3 linked regions of the Homo sapiens genome follow. The protein of the gene in region 3 interacts with the protein of the main gene of each other region in a biochemical or structural test. Each region holds a gene or a part of one and is shown on either strand. Other genes may lie near its edges.

Evidence for each region.
Region 1: the proteins of ACTR3 (region 3) and WASF3 form a complex in vitro, tested with the Homo sapiens proteins (one study listed by BioGRID).
Region 2: the proteins of ACTR3 (region 3) and WASF1 form a complex in vitro, tested with the Homo sapiens proteins (one study listed by BioGRID).

The regions. Positions count from the first base shown.
Region 1 is NC_000013.11:26,678,901-26,687,048, reverse strand, and holds part of WASF3 (actin-binding protein WASF3), read right to left. Parts: exon of another isoform or gene 7,015-8,148; coding exon of another isoform or gene 6,848-7,014; exon of another isoform or gene 5,996-6,847; coding exon 5,729-5,995; exon of another isoform or gene 4,634-5,728; intron 4,443-4,633; coding exon 4,075-4,442; intron 3,534-4,074; exon of another isoform or gene 3,466-3,533; intron 1,362-3,465; coding exon 1,204-1,361; 3' UTR 1-1,203. UniProt on the Homo sapiens protein: Downstream effector molecules involved in the transmission of signals from tyrosine kinase receptors and small GTPases to the actin cytoskeleton. Plays a role in the regulation of cell morphology and cytoskeletal organization.
Region 2 is NC_000006.12:110,099,305-110,107,452, forward strand, and holds the end of WASF1 (actin-binding protein WASF1), read right to left. Parts: intron 7,891-8,148; coding exon 7,773-7,890; intron 6,276-7,772; coding exon 6,103-6,275; intron 4,254-6,102; coding exon 4,074-4,253; intron 2,913-4,073; coding exon 2,284-2,912; intron 1,376-2,283; coding exon 1,218-1,375; 3' UTR 515-1,217; downstream 1-514.
Region 3 is NC_000002.12:113,927,559-113,935,706, reverse strand, and holds part of ACTR3 (actin-related protein 3), read right to left. Parts: intron 4,407-8,148; coding exon 4,311-4,406; intron 1,429-4,310; coding exon 1,321-1,428; intron 1-1,320. UniProt on the Homo sapiens protein: ATP-binding component of the Arp2/3 complex, a multiprotein complex that mediates actin polymerization upon stimulation by nucleation-promoting factor (NPF).

The sequences.
Region 1 (8,148 bases), on a different chromosome or scaffold from region 3:
AGCTGCAGGGCTGATCAAGGGAATCTCATGAGGTGCTTTTTATCATTTAATGTGCCAACAACAGGAGGACAACCATGTGCTTCTAGAACAGGGTGAAGGCCCTCCTCACGGGAGTGATCCCTAATCTGGCCCCAGCACCGTGAAAGGTGAATAGCTGTCAATATCTACTTTCACCTAAACCTAAGCTTTTAAAATTCTGACCAAGTGGTGAAAGGTGCCATCTAAAGTGCTCTCTGTTGCTCGCTGAGGAGCTAAGAACTCCTGCGGCTCACTCAGGACACAGGTGTCAGGAAACTAAAGGAGCAGGGCTCCTTTGCAGCCCAGGCCCTGTGCCGCAGCTCTGCCCAGCTCAGCGGTGTAGCTCCCAGAGTCATGGACTGCTCGCATCTGTTCTGGCCGGCTGGTGCCCACACTGGAGAGACTGGCAAGTATCTTGAGTGTCATCCCCAATGGCCCCAGGAAGGAAAATGGACTCTGTTCTTCACTTTCATTACTGTTGAGCTGCTGAATTCTCTTGCAAAAACCATCAACAGGCATTTACTAAGCAAATGCCCACAGGGAACCCAGCCTGAAAAGGGCCCTTCCAATTTCATATTTGACAGGCATGTGCAGAGGTAATGAAATTATTCAGCAGAGCATCAGATTCACTCAGAGGCTACCAAGCCAAGAAACTGAAAGCAGAAACACTGGATTCTCCCTGTTTGTTGAACCTTTCCCTCTAAAACCAACTTATTCAGAAACACATCCTTTAAAAAAACAAAAGGAAAAACCAAAGCGGTGAAACAATATCACTTACTGGTTGGAAGACATCACTCTGACATAGTCATTAGTCTTGCAGAGACCTAACACCAGGCAGCTTCACAAACACACAGCAAGTCTGCAGAGTTATATTGATCAGTAAGAGTAAACCCAAACTGCACTAAATACTCTCATGGCCAAGAGGAAAGCAGATGCTGTTTTCAGGACAATGTGATAGTGACAGCCTATTTCCTCATGTGCAGCACAATTTGCTATGTTTAGTGGCACTTAAGTATTACACAGTAAATACTGAAAAGACCCAGAATTTTTGGATGTGCAGAAGCAATATCACATTGTTTATACAAAAGGTGCTATGCTACGGGATTAGAATACCACTATTTGGGTGTAGAGACCACTTAAAATCTTCAACACGCTCCCACACGCGGCCTCTCCGCCGGCCTTTGCTCAGTCGGACCAGTCGTTCTCGTCGAACTCTGAGTCGTCGTCAGAGTCGCTGTACTCCACGGCAATGCGCCGGGACAGGATCGTGGCCACGTCATTCCCCACTGGCTCCCGCTTGGCCTCCTGCTCCCGCTGCTCCTGCACCTTTTTCAGTTGAATTCCTGCAGACACAACACGTGGTTCAGAATCACATCCTTTTGCTGGCTCCAAATTAAAGATAAACGAACAAATATGTCTATTGGACTTTTTTTTCTACTGACACTAAGGACAGAAAGTTTTAGAAATTTGAGGGGAGAAAAGCTCAGGGAATATTAAAAGTTTCATGAGAAAAAACATGCATTCAAAGTGAGAAGTTTTTTTGTAACAAAGTAATGTGTTAAAATATTAAAAATTCCTAATTTCAGTGTACCTGAACACCATTAGAGAAAACTGTGGAGCTGCACCATCCCAGACAGCAGCCACTAGGCACATATAGCCTTAAAAGCATGAACTGACATGTGGCTAGTGGCTACTCTCTGGGACGCTGCAGGCTGGAGCATTTCTATCACCACAGGACATCTACTAGGCAGCAACAGCATCCAGAGCCTTGGAAACAGTGTTCTATGCTACTCACTCTCAGCTAACCCAAGAAGTAACTGAGAAACCTTTATTTCAACAATTACTGTGGAAACAAACATAAAATACAATCATCTACTTTCTAGCTTAGTAACAAAGTAAGATATTTGATGATTTAATGTTTATCCATTTTTTTTTTTTTTTTTGAGATTGGGTCTCACTCTGTGACCCAGGCTGGAGTGCAGTGTTACGATCATGGCTCACTGCAGCCTCGACCTCCTGGGCTCAAGCAATCCTCCCACCTCAGCCTCCTGAGTAGCTGGAACCACCGGCGCACGCCACCATGCACGGTTAAATTTTGTATTTTCTTTTTTGTAGAGATAGAGTCTTGCAATGTTGCCCAAGATGGTATCCATTCATTTTTTAACTGTTTTGAAATAATTTCAGATTTACAGAACAGCTATGAGACCAGCAGAAAAACATTCCCATATACTTGGATTCCCCAACTGCTAACATCTGACCACATTTATTTCCCAATCTTCCCCTATCATCTTTACACAGACAGACACAGACACTTTTCTCTGGACCATTTGAGAGTGAATGGCATATAATGTCCCTTTACCCCTAAAATAGTTCATGTGTTACCGCCCCCGCCTCGCCCACCCAAAATATCAAAATCACAAAATTAGTTTGGATACACTACTACTATCTATCCTACAAATATTATTCAAATTTTGCAAAAAGACCCAATCTAATTGCAAATGGAAAAGATTATCCCCTGGTTCAGAATCCAGTGGAAATTATCCGTGACATTGGTTGTCAATTTTGTTAATGTCCTTTAATCTGGATAGTTCTTCACAGTCTTTGTGTTTTACAACCTTCTCGTTTTTGAAGAATATAGGAAGCTATTTTGCAGAATGTCTGTCGATTTGGGTGTATCAGATGTTTCCTCGAGATTAGATACAGATTATGTATCTACTCTTGGTAGACAGGGCTTATAAGGTGTTAAAAAAAAAAAAGGCAAATCCAACACCGTCCTACAATGACCCCGAACTTGATATTCATGAGCTAATATACCTCTAGGACTTTTTTATCTTGACAAAATAAAAGTGTGTCAATGATGTCCAGGTACACAGAGGACCCTGGGGTCTTTAGAAGGGTGCGTGGGCCACACTGTGGGCCTGGTTCATGGGCACACAAGAAAAACGCAGAGGCAGCAGCATCACAGCTCCTCTGAAGGACATCCCTGATGCTGAGCTGGCGGGCTGCAGCCAGGCTCCTTGCTTGGTCACTTCCAGATGAGATGACTAAACTGTGACCAAGTCTGTGCAGCTCCCCACAGGCGAGAAGCTCTTGGATATTCCCATAACATGTCAGGGACCCTCGACCAACCTGGGTTGGGACCTGGTTAAGAATCCATGGTGTGGGCTGGAGGTTCCCAGGGGCTCTCTGGGCAGCCCAAGACAGGCGAGGGCAGACTCCCCACCCAATTCCACCTGAGATGCTCTGTTTCCATGTGTTTTGTGGTCAGGGGGTCAACGCGGGACTTTCATCTGACAAAAGGGTTATGCTGTTGAATATTATAGATTCTGAAAAACCACTGGCTTAGGACATCAAGCAAATATGACAAGTCCAGCACAAACTCTTTTTTTTTTTTAAAGAAATCATTAATATGAGCTCACTTTCTTTCATTTATACTTTTCCCCTTAGAGCAGAATGCAGAGAAGAGATCCAATTAATTAATCGATCACTTCAGTTATTGGGTTTCTGGTTTCAAGGTAAGTAAAAACTTCCTAATTTCAATTCTTTTTTTTTTTTTGAGACGGGTCTCGCTCTGTCGCCTAGGCTGGAGTGCAGGGGCGTGACCACGGCTCACTGCAGCCTTGACCTCCCACACTCAAGCAATCCTCCCACCTCAGCCTCCTGAGTAGCTGGGACTACAGGCTCAGGCCAACATGCTCAGCTAATTTTTTTTTGCATTTTTTGTAGGGATAGAGTTTTGCCATGTTGCCCAGGCTGCTCTCAAACTCCTGGGCTCAAGCAATCCAACTGCCTTGGCCTCCCAAAGTGCTGGGATTACAGGCATGAGCCCACCGCGCCCGGCTGTTTCCCAATCTTTATCACAATTTGATTACCTTACACTGGACAAAAACACAACTACTATTCAAAACAAAACAAAAAAATCAAGTAAGACCCCTTTAACTCTATTTTAAAAAACGTAGTGAGTAGTCATTTGAAGACAAGGAGGCTGTAGCTGGCTGGAGACATGAAGAAACCTCTTGCTGAAAGGCAGGCTGTGTGTCTGGGGGCTCCACTTACCCATTCGAATAGCAGCGAGGAGGTCGCTTCGAGCATCACTGATTGGTGGCTGTGCAGGCTCTTGCCGCTTCGCCTCAGCTACTGGGGGGCCATGCATTGGGGAGGACGAAAGAGAAGACCCGGGACCAGGAGGGCCTGGCGGGGGAGGTGGTGGGCCCGGGGGTGGCGGGGCTGTGACCAGGAGCCCGGTGGAGGGTGGGTGAGGAGGAGCTGCGTGCGTGGAGCTGGCTGATGCAGGGAACGGGGGCTGCATGGGCATCTGGAGAGGGCTGACGAAGGCAGTTTGTGCTGAGGGAATCACAGGAGGAGGTGGCGGAGGAGGTGGTCCGGATGGGTTGTAATACTCAATTATCTGCGCTGGGAGCATCCTGAGAGAGATATGAGGCACATAGTCACCAAGGGAACAAGAGAGGGTCACGTCCTGGGAGCTCTTAGACACCTAACGGAGCCATCCCCAGACACAACACGTATTGTCACCTGAACTTCAATCATGGCAGGATGCAAACATGCACACCTTGGGTCAGTTATTTTCACAGTTTGACATTATTCATTATGACAGAAGTCAAGATCTGCTACTGAAATGTGCCAAAAGGAGGACCACTCAAAAAGTGCAGCACTTCCTGAAGAAAGGCAGAATAAAGCAGCTGACTGCAGAGGCCAGGACGGCAGCGCCAGTGAAGGCTTCACACTGGGATCTCAAGGCGGTAGCTCACAAACTTGTCTTTTAAGGGTCCTAAGGTCAACCAGATTGGGAGCTTTCTACATTCTCTAACCCACCTCCGTGGAAATGCCCCATGCCTGCAGTGCCCAGGTGTGTATCAAAAGCTTCGAAAAGTCACACAGCCAAGAAATCTGCTGAATTCTATTCAGCCGAGGGTCTTCCAAACTAACTGGACCATGGGCCCTCTCTTGGCCTGACACAGCCTCAAGCCACTCTGGGGATCCTGACTTGGCATGCATGGCCAGGGAGAGCACTTCTGAGAGCAGGATTGTCATTCAGACAGGGGTGTGCAGACACGTGTTAGCAGTGGACACCAACACACGGTAATTTTCCTGGGCACCAACTCTGAGGAATGAAGTCTTTAAAGACTAGAGTAAAGCCAAAAAAAAGAGAGGTGGGTGCCTAAATTGATAAACGCCTGAACATGAAGTCTCTGAATTCTACTTCTCAGGGAACAGGAGGGCCTGGGGCAGAATGATGTCTGGGTGGTCAGAGGTCACGAAAGCAGATTTTGGTCAAGTCTGAGAAATGAGGCACAGGAGCTGCATGGTGTGGTCTTCTCGTCTGTGATAACAATTTTCTGTGGTCCACTCAGGATGTGTCCAGAAACTTGAGGGTTTGGGACAGGTTCACAAAATCAGCACTTAATACCCTTTATCAATGCCTTGGCTTAAAGAGCCATTCAAACACCCAGAGTGTGTGTGAGGGAACACACATGCATGCACAGTGTGGCCTGAGACTCAACTGTAAGTCTGAGCTTATGCTGCACCTGCTTTATTTCACACAGAATGTTAGAGTTGCTAGTATCTACATCCAGTCATCCTTGACTCTATCTTGGCCTCTAAAATACCGGAGTTAAAATTCTCCTACCACATAGAGCAAGATTCAAATGCAAGGCCAGGAGGGATTAGGGTACAAGGCATGCTGAGTTACCCGTAGTCTGCTGGAGCCATCGGTGCAGAGGCCTGGGACCCCTCTGGGGCCTGAGGGGGAGGCGGGGGGGGCGGCTGCTGAGGTCTGTTGAGGGCCATGTGCCTCGCCGAGGCAGATGGGGGCCGGTACTCATGCTCCGCAGCCTGGCTTGCAGGCCCGTGTGGTGGCACGTCACCAGCTGCATAGGAAGGGGTCACAGGCTGGGGGTGCAGAGAATGGTTGGGAGTAGCCGGGTAAGAGTAATCCGTAACGTCCGATGCATGTGACCTGGCATTTGAAAACAAGAGGTGGGAGAAATTTAAATTAATTTAAAAATTGTCGGCTAACAGGCACATGGATGTATTTGAATAATAACATTGCTAATACACAAAAATCAGACATTAATTTGCTTTACTATCAACTAGGTATAGCCCCGTGAGAGATTCCAAGCAACAACATAATTATTATAAGTCGGCAGCAAGCCCCAGTGTTACATGGATTCAGATTCACAGCTTTGAAGTGAATAAGTCAGACAGACCGGCAAGCAGGAAACAGCAGAGCCTCCTTTTCACAGTATTTCAGCATACGTTTTCTCTAAGAAGGCTATGAAAGAAACCATTCCATTTAGAAACAGGATATAAGACAGAAGATTTCAGTGGCAATGAAACTGACAGCATATAATTAGAAAATATAAAATGGCAGGTTAACTGGATAAATATTAACAGTAAGAACAGGAAAAGAAATCGAGAATGCAGTAGAGTGAATCATATTTTTCTTAAACAGAAGAAATGTACTTAACAAAAAGGGCAGAAAGCAATGCGGTGCACTATGGAAAGGCCTTCTTTCCATAGTTTTCTTTGCACACAAACTGGGTGTGAAACTCCGAAAGGAAAGGGATCTTGGATTAGTGGAGCAGAGCTGAGACATGGGGTGCAGGGACGGGATTCCTGCTAAGCCCTCAGGAGGAGAGGAAGGACCCAAGTGTGGCAGCCCGGCAGTGCCGTGGGCGTTAGTAAGACAGTCACACGCTCCTGGCTCAGGTTACAGGACATGTGGCCAGGAGGGGCTGTACATCCTCTCATGGCGGCAGAAGCAGGGGCAGTCTGAGTCTGGGAACCCAAAGAAAGCAAAACAACAAACCCGCTGGGCACTCTGTCCTCTTTGGCGCTCCCTGCCTGCTCCAGTTTCTTTGCGTCACTCATAAACTCAATGCCCATTTTCCTTCTCTCCCACTCTTCTTTTCTTGTTCTGACTTTTCTCACATTTACTTGCTGGTTTCTGTTAGGGTTCAGCTTGTGTTTCTCTCTCTGAAGGAAATACCAAACACACATTGGGGGTGCTGAGGGAGCAGGGAAGATGCACGCTGCATTTCCATCTTTGGGATTCCAGTTGGTAGCTTTTCTTAACTGGGGCACCATGTGGCACAGAAAAGCCTTCCAAATGAGAAGAGACAGCTTCTTTTCCTTTTTCCTTCCTTAATTGAAGTGTAACAACTAATAACTACTCATTATTTTCTTCCCTAATTGCAGTATGAATTCTGGATTATGGTGCACTTCTGATTATGTCTTTTGAACTAGGTGAGCTGCTAGCAAATGACTTAAAAATATATTTAATGGGGGAAGGACCTGACCTGTATTTAGATTTAGAGTATTTTAAAAATGTAAATTCCTATAACCCTTGGAGACACTGATGATGTGTGCTTGACTCTGCGCATGACTACGAGTCACTGGCTTACAGTGCAACCTTTTAAAGGAAACAGAGTTCTCCAGCCAAACATGGACAGCTTTCTGATGAGATGAGGGTAGGAAACTATAAATACTGTGGCATAACTAGGAGGGCGATCCCTATCAAGGAGCCTTGCAACACAGGGTAGAAAGGAAGCAAGGAAAAGGGGCTAACCAGATGGAGGCAGAAGTGAAGGAAGACTCGATAAATATCTGAAGTAGAAACCAGAGATTTCTACAGGGCAGAACCCTGATGAAGGGTGCCCATCAGGAGGACGGGGGCTGGGGGAAGAGGGGACTGGTCAGTTGAAGAGGGAAGGACCACAGAAAAGGGATGTGCCAGCAGGCAGGAGGAGGAGGAGGGAGGAGCAGGCAGCTGTTGGAGATGAGCCCCACTCCCAGTGGGGAGGCAGAAACCAGCTGCAGACGCACGGCCAAGGTGGAGGTGAGTGGAGATCCCGAGGCCTCATGATGGTCAGTGATCACCTATTACAGAAGAGAGGACTGGGAGGGCCAGAGGCGACACTGACACGGGAGGAAGAGGACTGGGAGGGCCGGGGACGATGGGAGGAGGAGGGCCGGGAGGGCCGGAGATGACACCGACACGGGAGGAGGAGGAAGAGGGCTGGGAGGGCTGGAGACAACGCTGACATGGGAGGAGGAGGGCCGGGAGGGCCAGAGGCGACACCACACGGGAGGAAGTAGGCACAGCAGCAG
Region 2 (8,148 bases), on a different chromosome or scaffold from region 3:
CTCAACCTCCCCAGGCTCAAGTGATCCTCCCACCCCAGCCTCCCAAGTAGCTGGGACTAAAGGCACACCCCACCACGCCCGGCTAATTTTTGTATTTTTTTTGTAGAGACGGGGTTCTCGCCATGTTGCCTGGGCTGGTCTCAAACTCCCAGGCTCAAGTGATCCACCAGCCTCAGCCTCCCAAAGTGTTAGGATTACAGGCATGAGCCACCATGCCTGGCTGCAAAACATAATTTCAAGAACACTGTTAAACTGAAATTAAGGTATGCTGAAATTAGATGACAAGTTGAGGTTTTAATTTAAAACCACAAGCAGTTGAGAAATACAGAGTTTATGAACTTAGGGGGAAAATGACATAAAAGCTACCTTACACAGTAGACAATATGAAGCTGTGCAATTAAGAGGAAATTATGTAGCCTAAGTGTTTTTCAAATTTTCATTCACTATTTAAAGCCTACCATACAGTATTTGATAAATTATGATAAATCATTTTATTCAAAGAGCAACACTGATGAACTTTTAAAATGAACCATTTATTAAATCAGACTGTTATTCTTAACAGTTATGTAAGTTACATGTATGTTTAAGTCAGAGTATTTCACATGGAAAAGTTTTTAACTCCTATAGGCAAGCAAAATCATATCACACAATATATAAGTGGGAAGGGGATACTGCTAAACATTCAAATAAGGCAAGTATATAAAAACAATAAAACAATAATGAAAAAATTCAAGCATTCCTTTAAGAGAATTCAACACTACAAGCTAAATGTACTTTCTGAGTGTATTCGTATAATCAAGGCAGTGTTTCTTCTTTTAAAACATCAGGAAATGGAATAAGGCTCATTAGTAGACACAGCTGCCCTCAAGATTTCAATTTCAGTTGCTTTCTTTAAATTAAAATTCACAAAGTACACAATTAAGATATATCAAAAAACTGAATCTGCTACTCTAACAACAGCTGTCCATGCTTAATACTTAGTGGTTTATTTGACCAAATTAGTCTTTTCAGGGGGAAAAAAAAGATAAGCCACTGTAAAACATTTAGTTTGAAATGTATGCTAATATTTTCCTTAGAAATCAAAAGTTATGGAGGAAAAGGGTCATTTATTATAAGGAAAAGAAAGCAAAACACTAGAATGACCAAACATTTTCAAGGAACAAGCACCACAAAGGACATTTGCATTCAGTTTTGTAATATTTATCAATGCATTTTTCTTACTCCAACCAATCTACTTCATCAAATTCTGAATCATCTTCCGAATCACTATATTCAACAGCAATACGGCGAGACAGGATGGTGGCAACATCGTTTTCAATGCGTTCATGCTTAGCTTCCTGTTCACGCTGCTCTTCTACTTTGCGTAGCTGAATACCTGATACAGTGAATCCAAACCATTCATTTAAATCAAAATACTAGATACTAGATATTATTAATATTTCTGGAATAAAATCAAATACACATGAGAAATACTTATAGGAAAATAAAAAGATCAGAAAAGAATGTGAAGAAATCATACTGAGAGAGGCATTAAATCTTTATGTTATCTGTGTTATTAGTTGGTAAAACTTACCAGATATCCCAGTAGGTATCTACAGTTTATTTATCCATCATGGTCTACTATACCTCCCTGCTCACCACCCCCTAAAAAATTAATGAGGTGGTACATTTCTTCTATCACCTCAATGGTCAAATAAATTAAACATTGTTGAATATATTTTCTGTGGCTTCATTATCCATTGTATTTGAGGGAAAGGCACTATTATTCATTCTATATGCTCAGTGCCTGGCCTATAGTCATTGCTTAGGAAATAATGACAATAAATGAATGAATATGAGAAGTCTTTCCTTTGTTACTAAGGGAGGAAACTCACTCCTCTAAAGGCATCTGGTAGAGCAAGTGTCATGGATACCCAAAATGAACAGCCTTAACATTGAAGAAAATACCATTTTTAAAGGAGTTAATATACACATTAAGCATAATATAAAGGGTTTTAATTAAATGTTCTATAACATTTAAGTCTGATATATTAAATTTCTCATTCACTCAATAAACATTTTAAGGATACCTACAAAGCATGAAAATAAAATGGTCAAATGTGATATATTTTCTGGAAAATAATTTTAAATATAAGTTGGATATAGCTTTACTTTCTAAAGGCCATTTGTACACAAACATGATCACCTAAAATTTTATAGATAAGGAACACATTTTTGTCTTAAATATTTAGAAAGTTTCCAATGCTACTATAGCAATGCTTTTCATGGAGCTGAGAAAATTACCTTTTCGTATTGCTTCCAGTAGCACACTCCTGGCATCACTGATTACAGGTAGGGTTGATGGATGGCGCTTTGGCTCAGAAGCAGGTATAACTTGTGATGGAGGAGATGGAGGCATTAATGGAACATGGGGACCTGGGGCAGTAGATGGAGTTGGATGTAGCCCAGAGGGAGGATGAGCAAGAGCTGTAACTGTGACAGGTGATGATGGTCGAATGCCAGGTGGAGGCAGAGGAGGCGGTGGTGGGGGTGGAGGCAGCCCCTGAACTTCACCTTGTGGGAGTGGATGAACTGGTACAGTCTCACATACTGGGGCAGCTCTAGCTACTGGTGGAGAGGGCTGTACTAGAGGAGGTGCAATTGGAGGAGGAGCTGGGTGAAGAACTCCAGGGGCAATCTGAAGAGGAGCTGGAGGTGGTGGTACTGCTGGAGCTTGCAAAGCAGTGGCTGGAGGTGGAGGTGGGGGAGGTACTGGAGGGGGAGGAGTTGAAGTCATTGAAGCTCTTAATGAGGAAGTTGACAAGGCAGATGGAAGAGGTGGTGGAGGAGGTGGGGGAGTGGGGCTCACAAACACAGGTGTTCTGCCTGTAGCTGGTGACTGAGGGCGATTTTCTATCAAACCTGTAGCAGAACTGAAATGACAAAGAGATTCTAGCAAGTTATTAAAAGAGAAAAGCCTAAAGAGAAAATCTAACCACACAAACTATAAATGACTATCAGTAATTATATCAAAATGGATCCAATAACATGCTCCTATAGAAATTTAACATCTTCAACAGTATTTAGAAAAAAAAAAAGAACTAAAAGCACATCAATAAAAAAATTAATGAGTGGTGCTTTGGTTTGTAATAGTCTAAATAGTCTCATTCTCTCATGCAACTTTGGCATCCACTCAGATATTTTATGCTTACTTTAATAAATAAAATGCTCAATTCTATACTGACAGGAGTCTCTATAATGACTCAACATTGATCATAATGCAATTTTGTGGCAATACATGTGGCCAATACAATGCTATATTTATACTGAAACTATGAAGTCTCATCATATGCTATTTCAGTTAAATCAATGACAGCTAATTACAAACCACAAAAAGAAATTTACAGCTCTCTCTTTTCCTGAGGATGGAACACCAAATGAGTCAGTGATAGAAAATTGGATTTTTAACTGAAAATTGTAAAGCTGATCTCTATATCTCTATTAGAAAATTTCCCTAATATTTCTCTATTAGAAATTTATCATTTGGATAATAACTGACAAGATTAAACTTCAAAATAGCTTTACTGAAAGATTATTATAAGCAACTGCCAATCCTCTCTGAAATTCTTTAAGTATTTTCCTTAATACCAAATTAGTATTAATAATCACATCTTTGGTTCCCATTTCTTAGACTGTTACCCACATTCCAAAAAATCCTTAATTTTTCTTAATACACTGCACATGATATGCTTGATAACAACACTATAATAAAATGAAACAGGCTTTAATCTTTAAATTCTTATTAGCTAAATTTTCCTAGGAGAGTGTGTCAGCTCTAACCAGAAGATTACAAATAATGTCCCACAGACCAAATCTGACCTGCTCCCTGTTTTTATAAATAGAGTTTATTTCAACACAGACACATTCATTTGTTTATGTATATTCTATGGTGGCTTTCATGCAACAATGGCAGAATTGAGTACTTGTGACAAAAACTGTAAGGCCCGAAAGCCAAAAATACTTACTATATCGTCCTTGAAAGAAAAAGCTTACTGACTCCTAAGATAAAACATCATATGCTTGTTCCAACATACCTGATACAGGTGGGTATCGGTTTTGCATCTCCTGCTCCATGCATTGGTGGAGGTGGAGGTGGTTCATGTGGTCTGACTAATACCCTTTCCTCAGCTCTAGTCAGAAGCTCACTCATCTGACTAAATGGCAAGGCAGAAAGTGAGTAAGATCCATCCATATGATCCACGTATGTCTGAGGTCTAAAAGAAATATATAGTATCAGTGAATTATTCTTGAATTATTGGGAGGAAAGGGTTCTACATGAGATATTAAATATTTAAAGTTTATCCTTTCAATGCCAATATTTTAACTATTTTTAAGAAACTTTCAGAAATGTATTATATTAATCCTGCTTTTAAAACAAAGAATGCTGCTCACAATATAACCCTTACTTGTTGATTTAGAGATCTACTATGATGACCATCGGTTATTTTATTATTTTATAACAGAATACTAATTCAACTCACAGGATGAAAAGCATTACGTACGTAATTTAATAAACAAGAAAATAATTAACTTTTAGCAAATTGTGTGGAAAGCTATCTGCCTCTATTTAGTTCTTTACAAGAAGATGCCAATGACAGAAAGGTAGAATAGGAAAATGAGTTTTCTACTACTAGTATATCTCGGTGTGCTCTTAAACTTAAATGACTTCTAAAAGTCTTGCACCAGAGAGAAAGGCCTCCCAGATACTAGCAGCACAGAGGTGGCTAGCTATATTGTTTCTGTCCTTCTGCTGTTTTCAAAGGTGCAAGGGTACTCAGAAAATAGCTGAGTAACATAGCAACATGTGACTTAGATGTAAGCAAAATTTTAGATAACTCGAACATGTTAAGATTTATAAATATTTGCTAGTACATTCTTGGGAAAAAGTTGGATTTAACAGATGTGCACACAGCAAGTCAGAAATTATTGTATTTAGTGAGTCAGATAAGTACCTTAATTACTCAACTGTAGTAGAAATAAATGTCTAAAGTTTATTAATTTTTTAATGTCAATTCTTTCAGTAATACAGATAAATAGTATCTCTCAGATGTATATTTCTCCTAAAATAGGTCAAGATGTTGCACACTTATGGCCCAATCATTTATATGTATATTACTTAAAAGAAAACCTTAAGCTCTTTTCCATTAAAAAATCATATGACTAGGCTGGGCACAGTGGCTCACACATGCAATCCCAGCACTTTGGGAGGCTGAGACAGGCAGATCACTTGAGGTCATGAGTTCAAGATCAGCCCGGCCAACATGGTGAGACCCCATCTCTACTAAAAATACAAAAATTAGCTGGGCGTGGTGGCGTGTGCCTGTAATCCCAGCTACTTGGGAGGCTGAGGTGGGAGAATCGCTTGAACCCAGGAGGCAGAGGTTGCAGTGAGCTGAGAGCACACCACTGCACTCCACCCTGGGCGATAGAGCAAGATTCTGTCTCAAAACAAACAAACAAACGTATGACTATACCCAAATAAGTGTCTTCGTAGACAGATGCCAGTTTAATGTGTTTGCTGGTAGTATGTTATTTAGTTAGGGCCCCTGGCCACTAAGAAAGGAAAAAATCTTTTCTACAAAAGGGATCAATACTTTTGTTTGAAAGTCCTAATATATCTGAGGTGGGCAATGTGGCAAAGAAAGGAAGTCAGGGGAAAGTAAAAGGAACAAAACAGAACCCCTTCTTCACTCCTATTTTATATGCAATAAATCAACAGTATTTCAAAAAAACCCCAGACCCTAAACTTTTATTACAAAATTCTAGCAGACTGTGCCTGAAATATCGAGAGGCTATTGAGACGTCACACTAAAGCTAAAACCCTAAAGATCAGCCACTCCAACCACTTCTTTCTAAGATGACAAAACTAAGGTCCAGGTATGAAAATGACCTGCTCAAGGCCTGACTTTAGTAGGCTCACAGTGGTCAGGATTTTGAAATAATCTCTATATTTATAACAGGGTCTGCCTGTTCAACAGTTTAGGACTCAAGACTTAGAAGTACAGATACTACAAATAAAGCCAATGTTTTATCATTTAAAAAAAAAAACAAAAGTAAAGAAACCTTGTTTCAAAATGAGAGGCTGGGCCATTAGCAACTTCAATATGCTTATGTAAGAGATTAGCATCATCTTCAGCCAGCTCTGGACCTTGGGCCAGCTTCTGCCATTCTCGCCGCCTGTCATGAGGTGCTCTTGGCACTTTTTCTGGTTCATGAGGACGATCTAGATTTTTCTGCTATAACAGATGTATTGAAACAAAGTCAAATGCTTAAGCGCTAATTTTTAAAAAGGAGGTTATAACAATCAAATTAAACTCTAACATCAACACTGAAAAAGACAATGTCATCATAATATAGTAAAAGTAACACAGAAATGGTTTACTTGTACATTCAGTTAAATCTTAGCCAGTCTGCTGTAATCCCAGTTTCCTGCCATGTTTTGTTTAACCCCTAATTTGAACTGATGCACCAGACACAAAACAGTATGCCTAAAGAATACAATTTGAGGTCAGAAAGTCTTTCAGATGAAAAAAGACTCATGAACCCTTGCTCCACAGGCATTAGTTTGAAATTTCTACGATGAATGGCATTGTCTGCCCCTAATCAAAACGTAACAATTTACTAAGGTTATGTTATCTGGGAAGTAACTGATTAGCTAGCCAACACATTAGAAAAAAATCCAATTATCTAATTAACCGATAATAACTATATCACTCAACAGAAAACATTGTCTTTAAACAATAAAACAAAAAGTGATTCAAAACTGGGGGAGAAAGTACAGAAAGGGCTAGAGTAAGTGTAACAAATTCAAACGCCCAAAGCGGCCAAGCGGATAACATACATGAATGAAGCCAGTCGGGTGTAAGATGGGGCATGAGGTGAGCTAGACAGACATGTCCATCTCAGGCACTCTAGTTCCAAAATTTAAAAACCTCTGTGTTTGGCAAACAAAACACTCCCTACAGGCATAATCTGGCTTGCCAGTCACCAATTTGCAAATGTTAGCTAGAACACTGGGTTACCATCTAGCAAAGAAGACAATACAATGGCATTATACAGGGATTAGGGAAAGCAGAGATAGCTACAGGAGAACCAGAGAGATGATAAAGACAGAATTTGCCTCCTTCATAATTCAACCTAAATCTAACTTTGCTTCATCCTTCTGTGTTTTCAGTTATCATTAACATGAAATATAAAGCAGATACAAGTGAATTTTATTAGAAAGTGGAAAATGACAATAACAGAAATTTCATGTGAATATAATAACCTCTCCAAAACATTTAGGAGAGAAATGTTTAGGATGTGCTCTGTAGCAACAAAATACTAGCTTAATCTACGTTACCAATATCTGTACAAGATTCCATTGCTCCTTACCAAAATGTTCCTCTCTTCCTTGGTACACCTAACTCCTATCTGTTCTTCAAGATTCATTATAAGCTTTGTGGGAAGGGTTTACCCTGCCTGCTAGCTAAAGCAGATGCTATTTTGTGTTATCTAAACCCTTTATGCATACCTCTGCTATGGCACTTATTATGCCCTACTCTAATAATCTAATTGCTCATCTGCTCCCCATCAGACTGTGTTCTTTCTGTGGAGTTATAAAGACTTCAGTATTTAACTATATGGACCCAATAAAATAAAACTGTCAAAATACAAGATTAATGAAGTTCAATATATGCAACAAAACACAAATATACAAAAATTAACCTCAATTTTTTAATCTCTTGTAATACCTTCTGCTTCCTCTTTTCCTTCCTCTTATCCTCTGTATCTTGCAACATTTTTTCTTTCCATAGATCAAAGAAATACGAAGGATTGGTATAAAACTTCAGACCTTCTTTACCATCATCTCTGAAATATAAAATATCAATTAAAACACACATTAGTAAGACTTAGGCAATCAGAATAGAAATAATTTCACTAAAATGTTTATCCTCTTACATTAATAAAATACAGCATGTTAAAATAGTGCCAAAATAAAACTGAATATTGCACCAATAGAAAATTTCTCACAAATATGAGGAAACAAAGAAAAGTGGTAAAGCAGATGCTTTTCCAAGTTAGTACTAACAATTTAAAGTATAGCTGGGCAATTTTCATCCCTAATTT
Region 3 (8,148 bases):
TTATTTTATGTACCACTAAGAAAGAAAAATAAACTGCCAAGTAAACTAAAAAAAGCTATCAAATGCTGGACACGTCCTAATTTCCAAGCTTACTAAAATCCTCCCAAAGGCTACATAAAATCTCATATATCCACATAATGAAATATTATTTGGCAATAAAAAGAAATGAAATACTATACGTGCTAAAACATGGATGAATCTTGAAAATGTTCGGCTAAGTGAAAGCACCCAGTTACAAAAGACCACAGTGTTTAACTCCATTTACATAAAATGGCCAGGACAGGCAAATCTAACACAGACAAAAAGTAGATTCGTGGTTGCCAGGGGCTGAAGGAATCAAGGGGAAATGGGTGGTGACTGTTAATAGTTACAGGGTTCCTTTGTAGGGTGATGAAAATGTTCTAAAATTGTGGGGACGGATGGACTTTGTGAATATACTAAAAATCAATGAACTGTACACTCTAAAGAAGTGAATTGTATGGTATATGAATTTTATCTTAAGCTATCGTTAAACAATGGCAGTTATTACTAAAACCATTATGACATATCATGAGGGTGAAAGTGGTGGAGGACCAGGAGTCTAATCCAAAGGTAGTCACCCTGAGGATGTAATCTTTAACAGACATTGCCTGATGCATTAAACACTGGAGTGAGAATAAAAAAAAAAAAAAGTTCAAAATAATGTAAATCCTTAAGTGATATTCATTATAATATAAAAATTACTTTAAAAGATAAACCTTTCTCTATATACCCATTTAATAATAAACAGTATGAATTCTAGTAGTCATTTTGAATTCATTAGGCATAATTTTTTTAAAACTTGATGTATCATTAAGAACTGAAGCACAACGGCCTTGGAAGAAAAATGTTATTTCTGACAATCTAATTTGATGCATTTTTCTTAATATGCTTTATTAAGTACAAACCATAAAGCATCTACTAAAGTTCAGGTACTTAAAACTAACTGTTATACAGTTACCCTGTACACCAGTCTGAAATCTGTTAATTATGAATAAAAGAGGTCATCAAATGGCTAACACACATCCAACTGGAAAACAGAATGAAAGCCATTAATATACTTCCATTCCAGATATTGCAATTTGTAATTTTCTTAATTGCAGTACAAACCTACAGTAAAAGAAACATTTTGAATTGTTTATAAAAGTTTTAAACGGTGAGCAAAACATAGCTATAACTGGACAAATGGCCAAATTATAGTGCAGCATTTAAAGTTTTTTAAAAGTAACATTAATTCGTATAATTTAACTTTGCCAGATGTGTTATTTCATGTTCTGTTCAGTAACTGTAAAATAGCCTTACCACAGGAATGACATGAGTGACACCATCTCCACTGTCTATTACCGTACCGGTCAACGTCCGTTCTCCTACTTGTCTTGAGGTCCAAGATGCAGCTAAGGCAAGAACAGCCTTGAGCACAAAGAAAGAAGAAAGGCAAAAAAACAAAAAAAAAAAACAAAAAAACAAAGAGTTAATCGAAAAAAAAAAAACTAGTTCCCTGGAGTACTTTATTCAATTTTAAATGTAGTATCTGTGGAAAGAAAATACATAAAATTAATTTTGTATTATGCAATAAAATAGCTCACTCCCTACATTTTATTAAGACAAACTTAGAGGTTTACATTTGCTTTTAGGAGCATGATTTGTAAGATTTACATATTTTATAAAGGCTATTTCTGTCCTAAAGCTAAAAATGTGGAAGATTGCATTAAACAGTACAGAACTAACTGTCTGTAATCCCAGCACTTTGGGAGGCCGAGGCGGGCAGATCACGAGGTCAGGAGATCGAGACCTTCCTGGCTAACACGGGGAAACCCCGTCTCTACTAAAAAATACAAAAACTTAGCCAGGTGCGGTGGCGGGCGCCTGTAGTCCCAGCTACTCAGGAGGCTGAGGCAGGAGAATGGCGTGAACCCGGGAGGCGGAGCTTGCAATGAGCCGAGATCATGCCACTGTACTCCAGACTGAGCGACAGAGCAAGACTCCATCTCAAAAAAAAAAAAAAAAAAAATTGTATAGAACTAACTTGCCAGAACTTAAACTATGTCCACGTGGGCTGGCCTGTTACAAACTGCAATGTAAGGCAGAAAGTACACAACCACCCTACCTCCAGTTATTCAATACATATATGGCTATAAACAACTATTACTAAAAGATTACCTTCTTTTTCTTTTTTTCTTTGAGACAGAGTTTCTTTCTGTCACCCAGGCTGGAATGCAGTGGCACGATCTCGGCTCACCGCAATCTCCGCCTCTTGGGTTCAAGCAATTCTCTGCCTCAGCCTCCGGAGTAGCTGGGATTACAGGTGCCCACCACCACACCCGGCTAATTTTTGTATTTTCAGTAGAGACGGGGTTTCACCATCTCAGCCAGGCTGATCTTGAACTCCTGACCTTGTGATTCACCTGCCTCAGCCTGCCAAAGTGCTGGGATTATAGGCATGAGCCACTGTGCCAGGCCTACCTTCAAATTTTTTTAAGGTAACATGTGTTTAGGACTATATGACATACAGAAAACGCCATCGCACACCTCCAAATACTACTATGATTTAATTATGGAGCAACGTTGATAAAATTTTTCTATGAAAAACCTTGGTACAGACAATACAACACAATTCTTTTTTAAGTGTGAGAATTAAGAAATTAACATAGTTCATTTTTTAAAAAACTAAATTTCTTACAATCCAAGCCTCAAACAAAGTATATGACTAGTAATTAAAAACAACTAAACTTATACTGGACTTATTTTACCTACCTGGACTGTAATAGCTAAAAGGGACCTAGAAAGCTATCTAGGTCACCCTCCTATCTGAACACAAGATCATATTAACACAATCACCACATAATCACTATAGGCTAACAGAACTATACATTATTTTTTGACAATCTTAAAATGAAAAATTCCATCCTAATACTAGTTATATATATATATACTGTTTAGACTTCATTATGAGATATCCTTCCTCTATAAGTAAGTTCAAAACTATCATCTACAACCAAGAATTATCTCTGATCACTTTTACAAGTCTTTTGTAAACAGTTACGGTCCCAAACTAGAATAGATATGTATCAGCACATCATGTTACAGAAATGTTATTGACTACTGAACATCAACAAAACAGAACAGAGATTAAATAATGAAATTAAGAGCACTCAGAGGCCACTAAGGAAATCACTGAAAAACCAAATTACGACTCCAGAGGAATGAAACAAAGCTCATGATGCCAGTGTTTTAAAGTAAGCTTTACCTGACAATATGGTTAAACATAAGTTTATTATATTTAACATAGGATGAGAAGCAAAAACTCCCAAGTGAAAGATGAATTTTCCCAACTCCTCATTTTATTCATATTCTAAGAACTAAAAAAGGGCCTCCCACTCAAGACTGAATTCTTCTATAAAGTTCATGACAGGTTTAAGTGACTCCTTAAATATTTTTAGCAGCAGAGAATTTAAAAGGCAGTTCATTAAATTTATGGATTGCATTAAACATTAAAAAGTTCTTTGCTATCCAAGTTAAAATATTCATCCATAATTATCACTTATTGATTCTGTGTACCGTGGAGTTACAAAAACCAGTGTGATCCCAAGAAAGAGCAAAGTCAGACAGACCTCAGCTGCCTGGTATCACAGCTAACCATTTAATTATGAATAAAGTGCCTTCCAGCTTTAGTTTTCTTCCTCCACAAAAAACAGAAACAAAAATATCTACATTTAATAGAAATAATGAATTAATACACATATAAAGCATTTGTGTTATGTCAGGGATTACCTCTGCTACAAGGGAAAAAAAAAAAAAATGAGGTCAGCTCTGATCCTGAGGGGTGGGAGAGAAGCTGTTCCATACAGATAAACGTACAAATTAAGAGAAGTGAAATATTAGGGTGTCAAATATACCTAAAGATAAGTCAATCAAAAAAGACTACAATAAAGGACAAAAAGATTTATAAGGATAAATGATAAAGGATTATTTACAAGGATAAATATATATACAATGTTCTTGTCACAGAGAAAGCATTCCATAAATATTAGTTCCTTCATTTCTGTCCTATGAAAGCCCTTGAAATACCCAAACACCACTAACTTACTTTTTTAACACTTCTCTTTTCCTGACTAAATATCTCCACTTCCCATAATATTACTTCTAAATTAACAATTCAGGAGAGAAGTATAACATGCTTTGACATTATGTTTAAACCTTTGCAGAAAAAAAAAAAAAGTACGTATTTTAGGCAGCAAATTAAACTAGGTTAAAATGTAAGAATCAAACTTAGAAAGTATGAACTTGCTTACCTGCACAGCAATGTACAAGCCTGGAACATTGAAGGACTCAAACATTATTTCAGCAGTATATTCCCTGTTTTCTGGAGTATTCAATGGAGGTTCAGTCTATTGAAATAAATAACATTTTAAATAGATAATATCAGATTATTTTGATAACTTTCTTGACAATTTTTAAATGAGAAGTAATTTATTTCAAACATTTTATTTAAAATGCATTAAATTTACAAGTAGAAAGACAGACACAGAGATCAAAGGAAAACTATAGAGAATTCAAACATCCATACATATATGAAAACAGTATGGTAATTCACATTTTAAAAAAAAAATACCCTGAATGCCTATATCATACCACTTATACAGATTAAACATTAAAAAGAAATGAAGCAGGGAGAGAGAGGGTTGGAGGTAGGGAAAAGGTGGTCCAGTCAAATCATCCTTTAAATATGGTAATGACAAACCTCCAGAAAAAACATCAATGGTATTTGCCAGTGGGAGAGCCCTCATCTAAGTAATGCTTTTAGATGAATGTCCCCGAAGTATATAGGATTACAGTAAACAAGCCGAGATTCTACAGATCTAATGGTACAGCTTTCTGAAAAATGTTATATTAATTTACCTGTTAAGAGCATAGAATCAAGATGTTTGCAGAGCACTCTTCTGTTTATGTGACTGTATACATCACTTAGAAACCTCACAGGTTAAGTCTGGGACAGAACACACTCTAAAGAGGCAAGGAAGGACTCAGAGATCTGGCAGTCTTGGACTTCATATTTCACCTATGCCTCATGATCACTTAAACTGTTTCAATTTTTAAAGATTAACACTGGGTAAGACCTCTGATTCTTGTGAGTCTGACTGGCAATCTAATAGGTATCTCAAATACTTAAATGTAAAAGAAAAATTTTTAAATTTAAAAAAGACACAGAATTCTCTTTTTGACCTTAAGGTAGGAATAACTCCTTAAATTTCTGAAGTACAAATCACAAAGGGAAAAAGTGATAAAACTTGAATCCATTAAAAATTAAATATTTTTAAAATTATTATTTCAAAAGAAATATAAAGCAAAACAACTAAGTATACTGTTACCTTACATAAAACCTTTATAAGCTAAACTCCCTGTGGTGTTTAAACTTCTTTAGAAGAGTTCTGGAGCTATGTTTAAAAGTCTGGAGATAATTTACTGATGAATACATACAAAATTAAGTAAACTAAAAACCAAGGCAGTGAAATTATAAACTCCAAGAAAAAAAATCTACATAAAAGATAATCAGAGGACCCCACAAAGGAAAATATACAAATAGCTAATAATAACAATCGTACATGAAAGACTGCTCAACATAATTATCAGAAAATGAAAATTAAAATTAAAAGCAAATGAAAAATCGTACACACCCACCAGAACGGCTAAAATTTTAAAGACTGACAAGCTAGCAGCGCAGTGGCTCACATCTATAATCCCAGCACTTTGGGAGGCCGAGGTGGGCAGATTACTTGAGACTAGAAGTTCAAGACCAGCCTGGCCAACATGGCAAAATCCTGTCTCTACTAAAATTACAAAAGTTAGCCAGGTGTGGTGGTGCATGCCTGTAATCCCAGCTACTCAGGAGGCTGAGGCACAAGAATCCCTTAAACCTGGGAGGCGGGGAGGTTTCAGTGAGCCAAGATCACACCACTGCACTCCAGCCTGGGTGACAGAGCAAGACTGTCTCAAAAAAAAAGTATAAAAGATTGATAAGCCAAATCTTGAATAGAGCAAGCAGATTACTAATGCATCACTGGGGGGTGTGCAAAAAGGTTCACCATCTTGGGAAAAGTTCCCATGAGTTTCCCTAAAAAACCAATCAGGTACCTACCCTATGACGCTGCAATTCCATACTTACGTATTTAGACAAGAGAAATGAAAACATATGTCCACAAAAAGTCTTGTAGAAGAAGGTTCACAATGGTCAAATTATTTTATTATAACCAAAAACTAGAACTAAGCCAGGCATGGTGGCAGCACTTTGAGAGGCCATGGCGGGAGGATCACTTGGAGCCCAGGAGTTCAAGACCAGCCTGGGTGACAAAGTGAGACTCCATCTCTAAACCAGAACACATTACCCAGGTGTGGTGGCCCGGGCCTGTGTGTCCTAGCTACTCAGGAATCTGAGCTGGGAGAACTGTTTGAGCTGGGAGGTCAACACTGCAATGAGCCATGATTGATCCACTGCATTCCAGCCTGAGCAACAGAGCAAAACCCTGTCTTAAAAAAACAAAAACAAAAACAAAAAAAAAACAAAAATAGCCCAGGTATTCATCAACAGGAAAATGGATAAAGTGAGGCAAATTTATACAATGGAATACTACCCAGCAACAAAAAGCAACAAATCACCAGTATATGCAACATAATTCAATCTCCAGATTATGCTAAGTAAAAGTGTTTCACCAAAATGCACATATTGCATGATTCCATTATTTGACACTCAAACATGGGCAAAGCTAATCTCAGATGAAAAAGAAACAGTGGTTGTCACTAGGGCACGGGGGCAGAGATTAATTACAAAAGGGCATGAGAAAACTTTCCACGCTGATAGTAATTTCTCTATATCTTGGTAAGAGTTTAGGTTACACAGATGTATGTAACTGACAAAGATTGGACAAATCACATCATGCATCCTGCAGGTCAAATACAGCCCACCACCTGTTTTGGTAAAAAAAAAAAATTTATTGGAACACAGACATACCTATGAATTTAAGTATTGTCTATGGCTGCTAACATGCTACAACAGCACAGCTGAGTAGCTGTGACAGGGACCATTGTATAAAAAGTTCTCATTAAGTTTCCTCAGGGACTATAACCCCTGCAAAGCCAAAAATATTTGCTATCTGCTCCCTTAGAAAGTTTGCCAAACCCTGGTCAAAATCCACTGAATGGTGCAGACCGGTGATTTTATGATATGTAAATTTTATATGAAAAGAATAACCATACACAAATGATAGCTCTAGTTGATGAAATACGTGCTAAAGTATTTAGGGGTCAAATGACTCCCATTTGCAACTCACTTTGAAGTGATTTAAAAACTAAAATGAAGTGAAAGATGGATAGACGTCATGAAGCAATTATAGCCAAATGTTAAGGTTAATCATCGAATCTAGATTGTGGGTGTATGAGTGTCCATAGTATGGTTCTTTCAACTTTATAGTCCATCACAATCACCGAAAGACACAGAATATTGATTTAACCAAAAATTGTGATGTAACTACAATGCGAGGAGTGGGAAAGGATAGGTATTTTGTGTTGAGGGAGAGAAAAGGTAAAAAGGGAAATTCTCATTTTTCCTATTAGGAAGTTGGTAAATAATGTATAATATTCTTAAAGACAGAAGAAATAAAAAAAAAATGTTAAATAAAAGAAACATGTTAAAAGATTACTAGCAGGGCAAACTTTGTTAAAATTGAAAATGTTTGCCTCCGGGGAATATGAACCAAAGGTTGGGAGAGGTAAGAAAGGAAAGTGTTATTTTGTTGTTTTAAATCTTATAAAGTCATTTGATTTTTTAAGTTATGAACATGCACTGCTTTAATAAAAAGATGTTTAATAAAAAGTTAGATTATATTGTATTTTTGTTATGAAGAAATACCAATGATATAATAATCAGACTATTGTTTTTTAAGCAAAAAAGTGCCACAGGTTTCCAACATTTTTCTGAACATTACTTACTGTTTCTATCATAAAGATTAGACATTAACTACCAAAAGCACTTCTTAAGTGTTTAACATGTGGTGCTTTGACATACTACTATTCTCCTGTAGCCATAACTAGATGGTCTTAAAGATGATACAGCTTTATTACAAAGTCATTTAGACA